Linked DNA regions of Homo sapiens: region 2 is linked to region 1. A link means that fine-mapping ties the variant in region 1 to the expression of a gene that starts in the linked region. Tissue or cell type: monocytes. Region 1 holds a variant in brackets; the other region holds the start of a gene. All regions are shown on one strand. Distances are from middle to middle.

The links. PIP is the estimated chance that this variant, and not a neighbour inherited with it, causes the effect.
Region 2: it holds the start of PRLR, and the variant in region 1 is fine-mapped to the expression of PRLR in monocytes (Quach 2016, PIP 0.95). The same link has a PIP of 0.9 or more in monocytes after LPS and monocytes after R848.

Annotation. Positions count from the first base shown.
Region 1 is chr5:35,491,785-35,497,046 of GRCh38, reverse strand. No RefSeq gene overlaps it. Among named protein-coding and RNA genes, the nearest start is that of SPEF2, 120 kb to the left of the region's middle. The variant C/T (reference allele first, on the strand shown) is at 2,295.
Region 2 is chr5:35,228,604-35,233,603 of GRCh38, reverse strand. PRLR (prolactin receptor) reads left to right here and starts at 3,117. Exons shown (of 10, transcript NM_000949.7): 1 at 3,117-3,336.

The sequences.
Region 1 (5,262 bases):
CTGTGGTCTGAGAGACAGTTTGTTATAATTTCTAATCTTTTACATTTGCTGAGGAGAGCTTTACTTCCAAGTGTGTGGTCAATGTTGGAATAGGTGTGGTGTGGTGCTGAAAAAAATGTATATTGTATTGATTTGGGGTGGAGAGTTCTGTAGATGTCTATTAGGTCCGCTTGGTGCAGAGCTGAGTTCAATTCCTGGGTATCCTTGTTAACTTTCTGTCTCGTTGATCTGTCTAAAGTTGACAGTGGGGTGTTAAAGTCTCCCATTATTATTGTGTGGGAGTCTAAGTCTCTTTGTAGGTCACTCAGGACTTGCTTTATGAATCTGGGTGTGCCTTTATTGGGTGCATATATATATAGGATAGTTAGCTCTTCTTGTTGAATTGATCCCTTTACCATTAAGTAATGGCCTTCTTTGTCTCTTTTGATCTTTGTTGGTTTAAAGTCTGTTTTATGAGAGACTAGGATTGCAACCCCTGCATTTTTTTGTTTTCCATTTGCTTGGTAGATCTTCCTCCATCCTTTTATTTTGAGCCTATATGTGTCTCTGCATGTGAGATGGGTTTCCTGAATACAGCACACTGATGGGTCTTGACTCTTTATCCAATTTACCAGTCTGTGTCTTTTAACTGGAGCATTTAGTCCATTTACATTTAAAGTTAATATTGTTATGTGTGAATTTGATCCTGTCATTATGATGTTAGCTGGTTATTTTGCTCGTTAGTTGATGCAGTTTCTTCCTAGCCTTGGTGGTCTTTACAATTTGGCATGATTTTGCAGTGGCTGGTACCGGTTATTCCTTTCCATGTTTAGTGCTTCCTTCAGGAGCTCTTTTAGGGCAGGCCTGGTGGTGACAAAATCTCTCAGCATTTGCTTGTCTGTAAAGGATTTTATTTCTCCTTCACTTATGAAGCTTAGTTTGGCTGGATATAAAATTCTGGGTTGAAAATTCTTTTCTTTGAGAATGTTGAATATTGGCCCCCACTCTCTTCTGGCTTGTAGAGTTTCTGCCGAGAGGTCCGCTGTTAGTCTGATGGGCTTCCCTTTGTGGGTAACCCGACCTTTCTATCTGGCTGCCCTTAACATTTTTTCCTTCATTTCCACTTTGGTGAATCTGACAATTATGTGTCTTGGAGTTGCTCTTCTTGAGGAATATCTTTGTGGCATTCTCTGTATTTCCTGAATCTGAATGTTGGCCTGCCTTGCTAGATTGGGGAAGTTCTCCTGGATAATATCCTGCAGAATGTTTTCCAACTTGGTTCCCTTCTCCCCGTCACTTTCAGGTACACCAATCAGACGTAGATTTGGTCTTTTCATATAGTCCCACATTTCTTGGAGTCTTTGTTTGTTTCTTTTTATTCTTTTTTCTCTAAACTTCCCTTCTCACTTCATTTCATTCATTTCATCTTCCATCACTGACACCCTTTCTTCCAGTTGATTGCGTCAGCTCCTGAGCCTTCTGCATTCTTCAGGTAGTTCTCGAGCCTTGACTTTCAGCTCCATCAGCTCCTTTAAGCACTTCTCTGTATTGCTTATTCTAGTTATACATTCGTCTAAATTTTTTCCAAAGTTTTCAACTTCTTTGCCTTTGGTTTGAATTTCCTCCTGTAGCTCGGAGTAGTTTGATCGTCTGCAGCCTTCTTCTCTCAACTCATCAAAGTCATTCTCCATCCAGCTTTGTTCCATCGCTGGTGGGGAGCTGTGTTCCTTTGGAGGAGGAGAGGTGCTCTGCTTTTTAGAGTTTCCTGTTTTTCTGCTCTGTTTTTTCCCCATCTTTGTGGTTTTATCTACTTTTGGTCTTTGATGATGGTGATGTACAGATCGGTTTTTGGTGTGGATGTCTTTTCTGTTTGTTAGTTTTCCTTCTAACAGACAGGACCCTCAGCTGCAGGTGTGTTGGAGTTTGCTAGAGGTCTACTCCAGACCCTGTTTGCCTGGGTACCAGCAGCAGTGGCTGCAGAACAGCGGATTTTCATGAACCGCGAATGCTGCTGTCTGATTGTTCCTCTGGAAGTTTTGTCTCAGAGGAGTACCCGGCCGTGTGAGGTGTCAGTCTGCCCCTACTGGGGGGTGCCTCCCAGTTAGGCTGCTCGGGGGTCAGGGGTCAGGGACCCACTTGAGGAGGCAGTCTGCCCGTTCTCAGATCTCCAGCTGCATGCTGGGAGAACCACTGCTCTCTTCAAAGCGAGGAGGCAGTCTGCCCATTCTCAGATCTCCAGCTGCATGCTGGGAGAACCACTGCTCTCTTCAAAGCTGTCAGACAGGGACATTTATGTCTGCAGTGGTTACTGCTGT[C/T]TTTTTGTTTGTCTATGCCCTGTCCCCTGAGGTGGAGCCTACAGAGGCAGGCAGGCCTCCTTGAGCTGTGGTGGGCTCCATCCAGTTCGAGCTTCCCAGCTGCTTTGTTTACCTAAGCAAGCCTGGGCAATGGCGGGCGCCCCTCCCCCAGCCTCGCTGCCGCCTTGCAGCTTGATCTCAGACTGCTGTGCTAGCAATCAGCGAGACTCCGTGGGCGTAGGACCCTCCCAGCCAGGTGAGGATATAATCTCCTGGTGCACTGTTTTTTCAGCCCATCGGAAAGCGCAGTATTGGGGTGGGAGTGACCCGATTTTCCAGGTGCCGTCTGTCACCCCTTTCTTTGACTAGGAAAGGGAACTCCCTGACCCCTTGCACTTCCAGAGCGAGGCAATGCCTCGCCCTGCTTCGGTTCGCGCGGTGCGCTGCACCCACTGTCCTGCACCCACTGTCTGGCACTCCCTAGTGAGATGAACCCGGTACCTCAGATGGAAATGCAGAAATCACCCGTCTTCTGCGTCGCTCACGCTGGGAGCTGTAGACGGGAGCTGTTCCTATTCCTCCATCTTGGCTCCCCCCCACCGATGCCATCATTGTTATAGAAAAAGCTATGAAAACCATCAAGTCAATAAATAAAACAATAAATTTCTGCTGAAGAAAACTGTTTCTTGATGTCGTACATGACTTTAGCAGATTTATAACAGAGCCAATCAAGGAAACCATAAAAGAGATTGTGGATATGGCCAAAAAGGTAGGGGGTAAAGGGTTTCAAGATATGGATATTGGAGAAATTAAGGAGCTAATACACTTAACACCAGAGGAATTAACAAAAGATGAGTTGATGGAGATGAGTGCTTCTGAACAAGTGCCAGATGATTAGGAAGATGTAGAAGATGCAGTGCCAGAAAACAAACTGACATTAGACAATCTAGCAGAAGGGGTCCAATTATTCAAGAGGGCTTTTGACTTCTTTTACAACAAGGACCCTTCTAGGACACAGACACTGAAACTAAAGCAAACAGTTGAAGAAGGATTGATACCATGTAGAAACATTTTTAGGAAAATGAAGAAGCAAAAAGTAAGAGAAAATACAATATATTTCCATAAATTTACACAATTTGTGCCTGCCTCTCCTGCTTTCCCTTCTACCTCCTCCACCTCTTCCATCAGAGACAGCAAAATCAACCCCTCCTCCTCCTCAGTCTACTAAACGTGAAGATGAAGAGGATAAAGACCTTTACGATGATCCACTTCTACTTAAGAAATAGTAAATATATTTTCTCTTCCATATGATTTTCTATAACATTTTCTTTTCCCTAGCTTACTTTATTGTAAGACTGTAGTATATAATATACACAGAATAAAAATGTATATTAATCAACTGTTAATGTTATTGATAGGGCTTCCAGTAACAGCAGGCTATTAGTAGTTAAGTCTTCGGGGAATCAAAAGTAATACACAAATTTTTGACCACACGAGGGTTGCCACCCATAAGCCCTACATTGCTAAAGTGTCAACTCTGTGTGTGTGTGTGTGTATACACAAACACACACACACATATATACACTTATATAATATACACTCAACAAACACAGAAATACACACACATATAAGATGTATATCTTTCTATGGTTTTTGAAAGTAAAAATATTTTATTTTTTAAAGTTTTTCTTCATAAAATGACCTCAGGGAAAGATACTGGTTTGTCTAAAAGCTGTGAACCAAATATCCCCCAATTGTTCAAAGTGAAGAGTGATGTCATTCTTACTTGATAGTGACCAAAGAAGAGCGTAAACTGGGTATTTACAAATCCATGCTGCATTAATCGAACGGTGAATCTCCTTTCAGTATCTTACTAAATAAGATTGTTCACTTGGGCATTTTTGCTTCTTGGCACATATTGGAGTAAGCAGAGTCATCTGTTATTTTGTGATGTTCTTACCTCTGGTTTCTAAAGTTCTGAGAAAAAAAATGCAAGGAGGAGAATCTAATATTTATTGAGTTCCTAAAACATGCCAGACTGTATCTTAGGCATAATCCCATATTTTATCACTGATTTAATCTTCATAATAACCCAATGGAATAAGATATTATTATAATCTCCATGAGATCATCAGATTGAGAAGATCAAGGCTAGGCAATTCACTCTGCCTGTCCAAGGCCACATAGGTAGCAAATTATTGGGCCATGAATTGAATCTAAGACCATCTAACATAAGGCTCAGGTTCTTCATGTATTCCATCTCACTGTCTTTTATATTAGGACACAAATCAGATTAGGGAACATTTATGGAGAGACTTGATCCAAAAATATAGTTCTCTTTATGGAAGAAGAACTCCTTGAATTGATGAATGAATGTATGTTCCCCTGTGTGTGGGAGTGTGTATTCCTTTGGGCTATTTCTATAGACTTACCACACAGTAGTTAATTCTCCTCTGTGTTTAAAAGTGCTCAGGTGAAAGCTTGTAATAAGTACCGTGCTAAACTATTCTCTAGGTTGTCAAATAAAACCCAGATACTCTAAGAAACTACAGCAAGAGCCCAGATGGATCACTGAAATAGGTTTCACCCCTCTGGAGAGTCTCAAAAATGCAAATAACTCATTTAAACAACAGCTCGTGAGCTGACTTATGCCAGTTCTTCTCTAATTAGATGTGTACTTTCATTTAATGGGAGTCAATGGGAAGGAATAGTATTTAGTGAGATCTGCCCTCAAGAATAAAAGAAGGCAGCAGAAGTTAAAGGGCAATTTCTAGCTACCAATGTGCGTGGGATAAAAAATAATTAACTATAGCTATAAGAGTTTTGTAAAGTGGATTAGTTTTGTAACTTCTTAATCTTTGAGACCTTGCTTTCTTCTACTTCTCCACAGTGATTAGTATGAAAACCTGTTAAAAGCAAAAGGCCTGTGGACTGGTGTAGCTTGTATTGTAGCCTGTACTACAGTGGCTTCAACTAAATTCTGACCATC
Region 2 (5,000 bases), 260 kb after region 1:
AGCTTCTTCTTTCTTCCTTCTCCCTTTCCTTCTTGACCCTTCTTGCCTATTAACCTCTCCACTCCTTAAAACCAAAAAAAAAAAAAAAAAAAAAGAAATGTGGTTCTCAAAGAAGACAAATGAAGTAGCAATGATAAAACTCCTTCCCTATTTGAGAAGGAGGAGAGAGAAAAGGAGCCACGGCAGAAACCAACAGAGGAATGCCACAGACAGAGGGGAGGCTCCCGCCAGAGGATGGCAGAGGCCTGGAAGCCAAGGCGTGAGAACTTCAAGAGGAGGAAGTGAACCGAAGCCCAGTGCTGCAGAGAGGCCTGGAGGGCCCTCCCAGAGAGCAGCCAGTGAGTGGTAGTGATGAAAGCCAGGTGCAAAGAATTCAAGGGAGCCATTTTCCACCCTGCCTGTGCATTTTTGTAAAAACAGAGAAGTCAGAGCCCCATTCTAAACCTCCTGCATTAGAAGCTCTGCAAGTGACACCCAGACACAGTACATTTTAAACACTCAGGTGATTCTTGTTCACAGCCAAGGTTGAGAACCAGTGAGTTAAGGCACTGAGAGGGAAGTAAGTAAGGAAAGCTGGTGTGCGTAAGTCATTCTTTCACTAAGATTGGCAGGTAAAGAAATGAGTGAATTAAACTGTAAAGCCATCAAAAGGGTCAAAGAAGATGTAGAAGTTGTAGGTTGAGATAAAGAAGCCTATGGGGCAGAAAAGATTAAATATGCAAGAAAGGTAGAGGAAAGGGGAAGGAAAGAAAGGAACTTGATGTTTCTAGACTTTGTTAGATGGCACACATTTTACATATGCCATCACCATTATTATTCATTTGACTGGATTTTTGAGGCACATGCTACTGTGTCCAATTTACAGTGAGAAACCAAGAATAGCAAGGACCTAACCCAGTGCCAGTGCTGGGCTCTTCCTCTGCATCAGGCTGAGAAGCAAGGTCTTGGAGGAAGTAAACGGATATGGAGTCCAGGACTCAGGTAGGGAGTCAGCTTGCAAAGGACGAACACGTCCGCTAAGACAGAGATGCAGAAATGAACTAGAGGAGGACATCAGTAAAGAAGCTGTGAAGCTGGAGCACATCAGTGCATAGAGAGAAGGAGATAGTCAAAGAACCACTGTGGGGCAGAAAAGGAAAATATAGTGGCTCACTGCGGATTTCATCATCTCAGGAAAGCTGGGGCAAGGTAACTCACTGACAATGAGTACCCGTGGCTTTGTGACAGTGCCTGTGTGCTACACAACAGAGCAGAAAGCCAGCCCTGCCCTTCTTACCAGTGAGGTATGGATTAGCCACGCAACGACCAGTCTGTAAGCCAGGAGTACAGACGAGCCAAGCTGCCTGCAGCTGAGTGGGAACCACAAGGAGGAAAAGCCAAGTCCCTGCCTTCTAAGAGCTGACAGTCTGGAGTTACCCAGAGTGATCTTCTATTTCACTAACTGTTAAAATAGTCTGATTAGAACAACTATTGTAGAATTGAGTGACCCTTTGCTTTGCAAAGGTCATATAGAAATATTCTGCCACTGAGGATCTCATGTCGCCCAGTGGTTCTGAAAATAAATAGAAGTTGCGTACCTTCATGGACACCCATGAATGAAAGTAAATATACCCTAATCATCACAGGAAGCATGTGCGGTCTGCACGTGAAAGATGCATCTCCCATCAGCTAACAGAACCAGGTGGAGTCTATGTTTTAATAAGGACGTGTTATTGATCAGGAAGTATTAGGTTATTATGCCTAGGTAGTTGCTTCTGGGATTCCAGTCCAAAAGGATCACCAAAGCATCATGGGATTTTCAATGGCTTCCTGTGGCTTGGCAAATGCTCACTGCTAACTGTGATTTCCCAGTTATCCAGAGTAGCAGTCAAATCAAAGGGGAAAGCCTCATGTTTCAATAACTTAAAACAAAACAAAAAAAAAAACGGCCAGGCGCAGTGGCTCACGCCTGTAATCCCAGCACTTCAGGAGGCCAAGGTGGGTGGATCATGAGGTCAGGAAATCAAGACCATCCTGGCTAACAGGGTGAAACCTCATCTCTACTAAAAATACAAAAAACTAGCCGGACATGGTGGCACGCGCCTGTAGTCCCACCTACTCGGGAGGCTGAAGCAGGACAATTGCTTGAATCCAGGAGGCAGAGGTTCCAGTGAGCCGAGATGGGGTCACTGCAATCCAGCCTGAGCGACAGAGCGAGACTCTGTCTCAAAAAAACAAACAAAAACAAACAAAAAAAAAAACTCAGTAACCTTGGTTTAAAGTATTTCCTTGGTGGCCCTCTGGGTTGTGTAACAATCGGATGCATTAATTATTATGGCATCAAATGACACCAGCAACATACATAGTCAGAAATAACTATTTGATTCAGGCAGGTGCTATTATTTGTTTCAGCACTGTTAAATGTGGGGTTTTTGTTTTTGCAAGAGAAAAGGCGGTTGTGTGTGGTTTCAAGAAGAAGAAAAGTCAGAACAACATGCAGCCCATTAGAAAAGATAAATTCTTTATTTGTGGAAAACAACAGAAGTGGGGCTATTTAGGCACCGCCAATGTTTATTATATTCATATGGCAGAGAATAAACACAGCACACTAGAAGTTTGCGCTTTGGGTATTAAAAAAAAAAAAAAGCAAAACCTTCTTAGGTCACTGACTATCTTCTTTTGCTCCTTTCTATCTGACTCCTCAGGCAAGGTGCAATTCAAATCCCTGGAGAACCTCTCAAATATAGCTGCTGTTCAATGTTACTCAGAAATAAGGAAAGAAATTTGACACGGAGACACTCCACATCTTGGCTGCCTGGAAAAATATCATCTTTGAGGTCATTCAACTCACTAAGTCATTTTTATTATTGTTTTGTCTGTCTATTTTCTGGTACAGTCTCAATGAAAGATATGTGGCCCTAATCATGCAAAACCGATCTGGGGGGAATCAGTTGTTTCTTCAGGTCTTCGCAGGATTCCAGCTCCCCCAACTACCTCCGTCGCCTTCTAAAACTGGCAGGCTCTGGACGTTTTGCATGCTGAAGAAAATCACTGTTTTGCCTCCAGCAAGGAACATAAATGTTGCAACACTGACTCCTCCTCTCATGAAGAAAGAGTGAACAAGTGCACCGAGTTGAGCTTCTTCTCACAGAGCCACCGGGCTGGGGACCGGGGAGCGGAGGCTGAAATCCCCAGACGCCGGTTTTCTGGGCTGGGCTTTCTGCCTTACTCACTCCTTCTCCCTCTTTCTGGATTTTACCGACCGTTCGCGAAACAGCTTTCCACACAATGGAGCTTCATGTCCTCGTGCAGGAAGTACTCATCGACTGATGTGGCAGACTTTGCTCCCTGGCAAAAGTGAGTACCCATGGCGAGCTGAGGCCGCCTCCGACGGCGCGCGGCAGGGGCTGCGCGGGCGGCCGCTCTCCGGGATGCGGGTTCGAGGCCCGCGTGCTGAAGGGGAGAGCGGGGCCACCGGCGCGGGCTCCTGGAGAGAACGCCAGCCAGGAGCCAGAGTCGGCAGCCGGCGGGGAAGCCCGGGATCCGCCCGCCTCCCGCCCGGATGTCCCTTCTCAGAGGGGCTAAAAAATACTCTTAAGGTGCTTTGCCTCCACCACTGCCCCCAACCCCAGCTTTTACAAACTGCACTCGGCTCGCATTCGCCTTTGTCAAAGGCATCTTCACCTGTATCCTTGAGCATGAGTTTCGGCGTTGATTGTGGGATTCTCAGAATGCAAATTATTTGCGTCAAAATAAAAAGAAAAGAAAAAAAGAGCGGGGAGGGGGAAGGGGCGCAGACAGGTGATGTGATGAAAGCCGGACTCGAGACTCTCCCATCAGCAGCAGCCGCCGCCGCAGCAGCCTCGCGGGCATCCGGCGGGGAAAGTTTAGGGTTAGCAATGCTGACCTGAAAGGTGTTGCTCCTCCCAAAAGTCAGCGGGGGTAGGGGCAGATGAGCAGCCTCCGGGCCAGAAGCCGGAGCTGGACGGAGGCACCTAGGCAGAGGAATTGCAGCCCGGGAGGAAGCTGGAAGGAGAGCCCGCTGGAGAAGGGAGGAGGGAAGGGAAGAGGAGTTGGTTAAAGTCAGGCAAACTCAGGTAACTGGAGGGCCGGCCCGAGTGCTACGGCAGGGGAAGGCAAGGGCTGGAGTTCTGGCTCTTTGAGTAGAAAACTATCCTTTTAGTGACCTCTACCTGTATCCTGGGGAAGCAACCCACACTGCCCTGAAAACAAGCAACGTAGGGGATTCTATGACTGGACTTGAAAATGGTTGCAAAACATTATTATTAGTCTGGAGGGATCACTTTGTCTTCATTTGTCAAGTTGACCGGGCAAGATTTCCCACCTGAAATCGTGCTTCACTTGACCAGGGAAGTGCTGCTAATCCCAATCCTGACCATCAGCTGTGCAAACTTGGGCAAGATACTTACCCTCTCTGGGCTTCGATTTTTTTTCTGCAAAGTTTAGGGAATTAATTAATTATATATATATATTATAGAAATATATATAATATATATATAAATGTTTAATGAGGTGGAAGTGCTGAATAGTGCAAGAGAGGAGCAGATGAAAATATTAATTTCAGTGGTTCTTAAAAATTAGGGGTGATAGGTCCTTTTGAGAATTAGCTGTGAGTCCTCTTCCTGGGGCAAAATGCATATGGCATGTACATAAAATTTTACATGCAATCCCTGAGGGTTTGTGGATACTCCCTGAAAGCCATGCCTGAATCCCAGGTGACAATCCCTTATTCCTCCTCCTGTATCAAGACCACCCAGCCAACTCCTTGCTGCTGGTTGGGCTGACTGTGGGAGTAATCCACAGCCTTCTTGGGGGTCTGGAGTCAGCCACGCTGCTGAAGGAGACAGCTCCCCTGTCATGGGTGAGCTCCCCACATGCTCTCTCCAGAGCTCTACCAGCCTCTGACTCCAGGGGACCCCTCCTCACAACCCTTTTTAATGACTCTCCTAAGGCGACAGTCCTTACCCCTAGAATTTTCAGTCCCACCAACCCTGGAGAGC